Linked DNA regions of Homo sapiens: region 1 is linked to region 2. Evidence: fine-mapped expression QTL. A gene starts in region 2. The other region holds a variant in brackets. All regions are shown on one strand. Distances are from middle to middle.

Region 1 (4,257 bases), 120 kb after region 2:
TTAAGAAGTTTTAACTACAAATTCAATTTTATAGATATAGAAAAATTCAATTTATATATTTCTTTTTGGTTGAGCTTGTACCTTTCAAATAATTCATCTATTTCATTAATCTAATGTATTGATATAGTTCATATTTTATTAATATCTGTAGAATATGTAGTGATATCACCTCATTCTGATATTGGCAAATTATCTTTTTTCCTGATAATCTGGCTAGAAGTTTTATTGATATTTTCAAAGAACCAGCTTTTGGTTTCATTGATTTTTTTTCTGTTTTTGTTTTATATTTCACTGGCTAGATCTTTATTGTTTCCTTTATTCTTCCTACACTGTGTTTTTGTTCGTGTTCTGTTTTCATTAAGGTGGAAGCTGATGCCATTAATTTGAGATCTTTTTGTTAAACAGGCATTTAGAGCTATAAATTTATCTTAGGTGTCACATTAGCTGCATTTTTTTTTTAATAGACAGGGCCTCAGTCACCCAGGCTGCAGTGCAGTGGTGTGATCATGGCTTACTGCAGCCTTGAATTCCTGGGCTCAGACGATCCTCCTGCTTCAGCCTCCCAAGTAGCTGGGACTACACGTATGAGCTACCACACTTGGCTAATTTTTTATTTTTAAATTTTTTGTAGAGATGGGGGTCACACTATGTTGCTCTGGCTTGTCTCAAACTCCTGGGTTCAAGTGAGCCTCCCACCTCAGCCTCCCAAAATGCTGGGATTACAGGTGTGAACCACCATGCCAGGCCCACAAAATTTGATACATTGTGTTTTCCCTTTAGATTTCTTTTGTGATTATGTGTTATTTAGAAGTGTGTTATTTAGTTTCCAAATATTCTGGGAATATTTCCTATACCTTATACCTTTCTAACTTCTAATTTAATTACATCATAACCAGAAAACATGACTAGAATACTTTTAAATTTATTTAGACATTTTTTCTTTCAGTACTTTGAAGGTATTTCACCACCCCCCCTTTTTTTTTATTTATTTTTTATTTTTTGGAGACAGTCTTACTCTGTTGCCCAGGCTGGAGTGCAGTGGCACAATCTCAGCCTCCCAGGTTCAAATGATTCTTGTGCCTCAGTCTCCCTAGTAGCTGGGATTACAGGTGCACACCATGATGCCCAGCTACTTTTTGTATTTTTAGTAGAGACAGGGTTTTTCCATGTTGGCCAGACTGGTCTCAAACTCCTGGCTTCAAGTAATCTGCCTGCCCCAGCCTCCCAAAGTGCTGGGATTATAGGCATGAGCCACCGGGGGTGCCCTGCCCACTATGGTTCTTCCTTGTTCCATTGAATGTTTGTATTCTTTTTTCTCTGGGTGCTTTTAAGATATTCTCTTATTACTTTTAAGTAATTTGATGTTCATATTGCCTTGATGGCATTTTATTCATTTTTCTTATTCCTGAAGTTTGATGATCATCTTGGATCTGAGGATTTGGAGTTTTCATCTAACATGGAAAAAATATTAGCCATTGTCTTATCAAAAATGTTTTTCTCTCCACTATCTTTCTTGGCTTTCAGGAATTCGATTACACATGTATTAGGCCACTTGAAGTTGTCTCAAAGCTTATTTTTTTTCTATTTCTTTTTGGATAGCTTTATTTCTATATCTTCAAGTTTACTGTTTTTTCCTGCTATATTCAATGGCTATATTATAGCCATTCATCCAACCTAGTCTATTTTTATATCAAACTTTGTAGTTTTCTTCTATAAATTAACTTGGGTTTTTAAAATGTTCTGTATCTATCTACACTTCTCAGTCTTGTAGCTTCTTGAACATATAGAATATAATTATAACTGTTTTCATGTCTTTTCC[C/A]ACTATTTATGTAATATGTATAATTTCTGGGTAGGCGTCAATTGATCTTTTCTCTCATAGGTCATATTTTTCTCTTTTACTGAATGTCTGGCAATTTTTTATTAAATGCCAGACATTTAGATGCTGAATATTTTGTATTCCCATAAATATTCTTGAACTTTATTGTGAAATACAGTTAGATCATTTGGAAAAAGTTTGATGCTTTCATGTGTTGCTTTTAAATTTTCTTAGATAGGGCCAGGGCAGCATTTATTCTAGGGCTAATGTTTTCAAACTTGTGAGGTGAAGCCTTCTATGTATTCTACCTGGTAGCACATGAATTATGAGATTTTTAGCTCTAGGGACCAGGAATGATTCCTGGCTCTTTGTGAGCGCTGTGTTCTCTAATCTTTTTAGGTGGTTCTTTCCCCAGCCTTGAGTAGTTCCTTCATATAAATACACTGATCAGTACTCAGCTAAAGCCTTAAGAGACCCCTCTATAAATCTCTTTAGTGTGCATTCTCTTTGCAGCTCTCTCTGGGACTCTGCTCTGTAAACTCTAGTTTCTTAACTTTGCCTTACTCCTGTGCTCCATCACCTCAACTCAGGGACATCACTGGGCTCTGTCTGAGCTCCTGCTCCCTGCAACTGATACCTGGATATTTGCTTTGGGTGGTAAGCTGAGGCAATTATAAAATTTACCTCATTTGCTTTCCTTCTTTCAGAAATCACTGTCCATTGCCTAATATATAAATCTTTAAACCCATGGTTTCACATATTTTTTGTTCTTTTAGTTGTTTTTGGTGGAATGGTAACTCTGGTCCCTGTTACTATATCTTATCTAGGTGGGCCATAATAATTTTTAAATATGCATATTTAAATCTTCCCAAATTTGGGAAAATTTCTTGGCAGATATGAATAGGGAGGGCATAAGTGTGAATTGTAGCAAAATCAAATTTTTGTTTAGAAATTTGAAGTTTAGTGTTTTTGTACTCTCAATTTTCTATTTTAAAAAAGGTGGTAAATGCCCTGAAAACCAGGTATAATATCATGCATACCCTTATTTCTGGACTCAGAGGGATTTTGAGGCCTATAAATGTTATGACTTACCCAATTACATAGCTAACAAGCAGCAGATTTGAAACCCAGAATCAGGTCTACAGAAGCTCAGTCCCAGGTACTCTCCAATCTTCTGACACATACAGTCGATCCCCATTATTTGCAGATTGTGTTTATAAAATAATCTACATGATAAAATTTGTAACCCAAAAGTCAGTACTTACAGGAGCTTTCGCTTTTGCTTTCATGGACACTGGCAGGGTGGTGAAAAATACTGGACACACATATTCCCAGCTCTCACATTGTTAAGTTAGTTAGGTTTTTTTTTACTTTTTGCAGTTTATGTAGTGCGCTGTTTTTCACGTTTCTGTGCTTTTCATTGGTGATTTCATTGTTTAAAATGGCTCTGAACTGGGTGGGGTGTCGCCTCACCTAGGAAGCACAAGGGTGAGGTGATTTCCCTTTCCTAGTCAAGGGAAGCCATGACAGACTGTACCTGGAAAAACAGGACACTCCCACCCAAATACTGCACTTTTTCCAAGATCTTAGCAACTGGCAGAGAAGGAGATTCTCTCCCGTGCCTGGCTTGGCAGGTCCCGTGCCCACAGAGCCTTGTTCACTGTTAGCACAGCAGTCTGAGATCAAATTGCAAGGTGGCAGCCTGGCTAGGAGAGGGGCATCCACCATTGCTGAGGCTTCAGTAGGTAAAGCGGCTGGGAAGCTCAAATGGGGTGGAGGCTACAGCAGCTCAACAAGGCCTACTGCCTCTATAGACTCCATTTCTATGGACAGGGCATAGCTGAACAAAAGGTAGCAGATAACTTCTGCAGACTTAAACATCCCTGTCTGACAGCTCTGGAGAGAGCAGCGGTTCTCCCAGCATGACATTTCACCTCTGAGAACAGACACACTGCCTCCTCAAGTGGGTCCCAAACCCCCATGTAGCCTAATTGGGAGACACCTCCCAGTAGGGGCTGACTGATACTTCATATAGGTGGGTAGCACTCTGGGACAAAGCTCCCAGAGGAAGGATCAGGCAGCAATATTTGCTGTTCTGCAATATTTGCTGTTCTGCAGCCTCCACTGGTGATACCCAGGCAAACAGGGTCTGGAGTGGACCTCCAGCAAACTCCAACAGACCTGCAGCTGAGGGACCTGTTAGAAGGAAAACTAACAAACAGAAAGGAATAGCATCAACATCAGCAAAAAGGACATCTACACCAAAACCCCAACTGTAGGTCACCAACATCAAAGACCAAAGGTGGAGAGAAACCAGAGCAGAAAAGCTGAAAATTCTAAAAACCAGAATGCCTCTTCTCCTCCAAAGGATTGCAGCTCCTTGCCAGCAACGGAACAAAGCTGGATGGAGAATGACTTTGACGAGTTGACAGAAGCAGGCT
Region 2 (4,257 bases):
CTGAGTAGCTGGGATTACAGGCATCCACCACCATGCCCGGCTATTTTTTTGTATTTTTAGTAGAGACAGGGTTTCATTACGTTGGCCAGGCTGGTCTTGAACTCCTGACCTCGTGATCCACCCACCTCAGCCTCCCAAAGTGCTAGGATTACAGGCGTGAGCCACTGTGCCTGGCCAGAATTAGGTTTTTATAAATGTGAAGTATTAGATTCTTATCAATCGGCAAAAGTAGAACTGAGGAACTATATCATATGCTTATAAACTGATTTCTTCTTAGTTTTTACTCCTATGATGTTTCTGTTGAGACCAGTTGACAGAGTAGGAGTGTCAGTATGGAAAAAGCATGGATCATTTTGAAACATGGATTATTCATCAATTACATGTGTTTTAGAATGGAGTCAGTGATATACTCTTGGAGATGATCTCCCCCACCCCCCATCTCCTCTCCTTTTCCTTTCCCCACATCTGTAGCCACTTCCTGTCAGCGAAACCCAGAAGAAAAACTTGACAGAAGCAAAGGGCATCCAGAGAATTATGATCCCCAGGTTGTAGTTCCAGTTCTGTCATGTCCTAAGCGGTCATCTCCTCTCTGGGTCTCAGGTTTCTTATGTATAAGATAAGTAGGAGATTGGGGCCACAACACCTGAGACTAAAGGAATTCTAAGTTTTCATTACTCTATGGATTCCACCTTTGCTAGCTTGGGACCTGGCAGGTCTCAGCAGCTGGTCATGTAGCTAATTCTCAAAGCAGATAAATGCCTGCAGGATAACTGTGAATTGACTCTAATCACAGCAGAGTCCAGCTGCTTCAATAGATGCTGGTGCCTTTGGCTGCTTCCCGGAGCCACCAGCCAACCCAGAGTTGAAGCTGGCTGGAAAAGCAGATATGTTGGAGAGGCCAGCATCATCTCTAAACACAGCATCTGGGAAATACCCATGTCCCCAGAAAGAGGTCATTGAAATCCTTCACTTGGTGGTGCAGTGCAGAGACTCAGGAAAACCAGGCTTTGAGTCCTGACCCTGCCACTTATACCAGCGGTGTGACCTTGGGCAAATTCTCTGGCCCTATGTTATCTTCCTCCTCCATACAATGAGGGTAGAAATAGAGCCACCTTGCAGAAGTATAGTAAGGATTAAGGTCCCAGGAGGCCTAACAGTACCTACTAAGCAGAGGTCCTCAGAGGTACTTAATAAATGGTAGTAGTAGTTATTATCCTGTGCCCTTTGTTCACAGGAGTCTCTTACAGGGGTGTTGGTCTCAGTGCTCCTCCCCATGGCCAGGCTGTATTGGCTCATGCCCAAGGCGTAGCCTTGCCAGGGAGCCTGGTACAGAGATGCTGCTGATTGGGATGCTGATTAAATTCCCTGATTGAGGAGCCTCAGCATTCTGGCCCAGAGCAGGAGGGCCAGCAATATTTAGCACAATCTGCTTGGATCCTCAATTAAATTGTTTTTCCAAACTGCCCTTTTCAAGGTCTTGTCCTCTTTCCTCACCTCTTTCTGGCCCCTTCTCTCTGGGTCCTTGCCAGAGAAGGGAAACAAAGCCTTGTGGGGCTCCATCTGCTTCCCCCTATCCAGAAGAAGGTGACAAGGCTGTCTTCGTTGCAGAAGATGTGGTTAAAACAAGCCTTGGCTATTCAAGGTGGCTGCAGTCTCATCCTGGAGGCTAAAGTCTCTGCGCATTCCAGGTTGATCTCTGTTTTCTTGGCAAAACTGAGTTCTCAACTCAAACCTGCCTCTCCCTTCCATCCTTTATCCCGACAGCTCGCAAGTGCTTTGCTGGGAAGGACGATTAAGTGTCACTTAGTGTATTTTTCCATTTTCCTGTGTTCATCTGGTAAAAAGAAAATAAAACAAAATAAAGGAGGCCCAGGATTGAACTGTCATTATTTTTTAAATGGAGAGAGAAGGGGTCACATGACTGCGAGTAACTGATTTAGCCAAGTGGCTGCAACTCCGAGTTTGCTGCAGAGCCGCCCCCTCCCGGCGGGGGCGCTGACGTCACGGAAAAGCCCCGCGGCGGGTCGGCTGGGCTGGTTATAAACCGCCCGGCCGCGGCGGCTGCAGGCGGCGGGCAAGGACGGCGGGCACAGCGCAGCACTCCCCGCTCGTTGGCCCGGGTATCCCAGCGCGGACCCACGCGATACGCTGACGCCCCGACGCCGATCCGGCCGAGCCAAGTAAGGGGGACGGCCCGAGACGGAGAAGGGAGAGAGTGGGAGTTTCCCAGCCCGCAGAACTTTCGAAGTTGAGAAAAGAACCCCTGGAACGTGCGCTCAGCACTGGGATTTTCTGGTAGGGGTCAGAGCTTCAAGTGCAAAGGATGTCGCTTCTCATCAGCAGGTTCCTTAGTTCAATTCGGTAGAAGGGTCACCTCCCTCTACAGATCGAGTGGTCAGAGAGGGCAGCCCTTAATGATGCTTTATGTATTTGTTGTTTGAATGTAAGTCTGCCAACTGAGGTGCTGCTTTTGAGACTAAAAAACCGGCTGGTCGTCCTGGTTAGTGGCGAGATGTTGGGGTACGGAGTGTGGGGGTGAGGGTGGGAGAGGAGTGTTTGTGCATCTTGCTGATTGCAACGTAAGTACTTATACTTTATCACCAGTAGCCGGAAAAACAGACCTCCCGGCTAGGGGAGGCAGTCTGCAAAGGGAAAGTTGTAGAGAAGTTGTTGAATATCATTTAGGGGAGTCTTCAGCCTTCTGATTTGCTTCAAGAAGGGGATCTGAGAATGGTGGCTCAGGCCTGTGATCTCAGCACTTTCGGAAGCCGAGGCAGGAGGATCACTTGACCCCAGGAGTTCGAGACCAGCCTGGGCAACATAGTGAGGCCACTGTCTCTACCAAAAAATAAAAATAAAAATAAAAAAACTAGTGGACGTGGTAGTGCAGGTCTGTAGTCCCAGCTACTTGGGAGGCTGAAGTGGAGGATCTCTTGAGCCTGGCAGTTGGAGGCTAGCTACAGTGAGCTATGATCGTGCCACTGCACTCCAGCCTGGGTGACAGAGCAAGACCCTGACTCAAAAAAGGAATCTGAGTTGAATTAAAGAACTCTTGAGAATGGATGTGGTTTTTTAAGAATGAGGCACTTTCTCTGCAAATTTCATAGGTCTGAACATGAGCAGGTCATTTCTCTGCCAGGGTGTCTAGGTTTGGAGCCGGGATGTTTTAAAAGTGGTATCTGTGGGTAAGAGGGCACAGCTGAGGCATAAACTTTAAACAGAAAATTTCCCCCCTACCCCCAATAATGGCAGGTGGATGCTCTCCAGGCAGCTGGAGAGCATCAAGGCAACTTTACTAAACATGGAAGTTCCAATAAGTGCCTGTCCAGTCCAGCCAGGGTTGCAGTGGGCAGGGGAGGGGAGGGTGATGTCATTGCCACGTGTTTCCCACTGAGGCACAAAACCTGCTGGACACTGGTGCAATTAAGAGCCAAGTTTAGACAAGAGCAGCTAACCTGACCAGCTGGTCCCCAGCAACATTAACTTGTTGCTTTTCAAGCCATCTTTGGAGTCTGCTGGTTCTTTCCAGCTGCCTTTGTGCCAGCTCTGAGTGCAGCTCTTCTTTCATCCAAGTCTGCTTTGAGGAAGGGGGAAGCCCATGGGCAGTGGGTGATGTTAACCGTATTTGTTTTCCCATGCAAATGATAGTCTGCCTGAGGAGCTGGTTACTGACAGTGTGGGCAGCATGTGTGTGTCCAGTTGAAAGCCTGTCTTGTTGGGGTTTGGGGGACTGTTTAATTGGTGGTCTTTATGTTAGGGATACTTGCTTCTCATCTCATCTAATAAAATATTACTGATGACTGACCATGTATTTGAGCGGAGCTCTCACTCATGCTTACTAATGCTGCCATCTTGGCTGCTTTGCTCCCCAGGACTCAACGATGACTCTGAATAATGTCACCATGCGCCAGGGCACTGTGGGCATGCAGCCACAGCAGCAGCGCTGGAGCATCCCAGCTGATGGCAGGCATCTGATGGTCCAGAAAGAGCCCCACCAGTACAGCCACCGCAACCGCCATTCTGCTACCCCTGAGGACCACTGCCGCCGAAGCTGGTCCTCTGACTCCACAGACTCAGTCATCTCCTCTGAGTCAGGGAACACCTACTACCGAGTGGTGCTCATAGGGGAGCAGGGGGTGGGCAAGTCCACTCTGGCCAACATCTTTGCAGGTGTGCATGACAGCATGGACAGCGACTGCGAGGTGCTGGGAGGTAGGTGTCCCAGCCCCAGTGGGCTTCTTTCCACCAGGGGTGGCC

Which allele goes with the higher level. Positions count from the first base shown, and alleles are read on the strand shown. Sizes are in standard deviations (SD) of each study's normalised expression.
As copies of C replace A in region 1, the expression in tibial artery of the gene that starts at base 2,066 in region 2 goes up (small effect, 0.21 SD a copy in GTEx).

Evidence for each region. PIP is the estimated chance that this variant, and not a neighbour inherited with it, causes the effect.
Region 1: its variant is the best candidate, but not a certain one, in a credible set for the expression of GEM in tibial artery (GTEx, PIP 0.51).

What each region holds. Positions count from the first base shown.
Region 1 is chr8:94,136,630-94,140,886 of GRCh38, reverse strand. All of the region lies in intron 15 of CDH17 (cadherin 17), which reads left to right. Among named protein-coding and RNA genes, the nearest start is that of CDH17, 70 kb to the left of the region's middle. The variant C/A (reference allele first, on the strand shown) is at 1,820.
Region 2 is chr8:94,260,128-94,264,384 of GRCh38, reverse strand. GEM (GTP binding protein overexpressed in skeletal muscle) reads left to right here and starts at 2,066. Exons shown (of 5, transcript NM_005261.4): 1 at 2,066-2,295; 2 at 3,873-4,212. The coding sequence starts at 3,882. RefSeq lists silencers at 2,755-2,824, 3,966-4,109.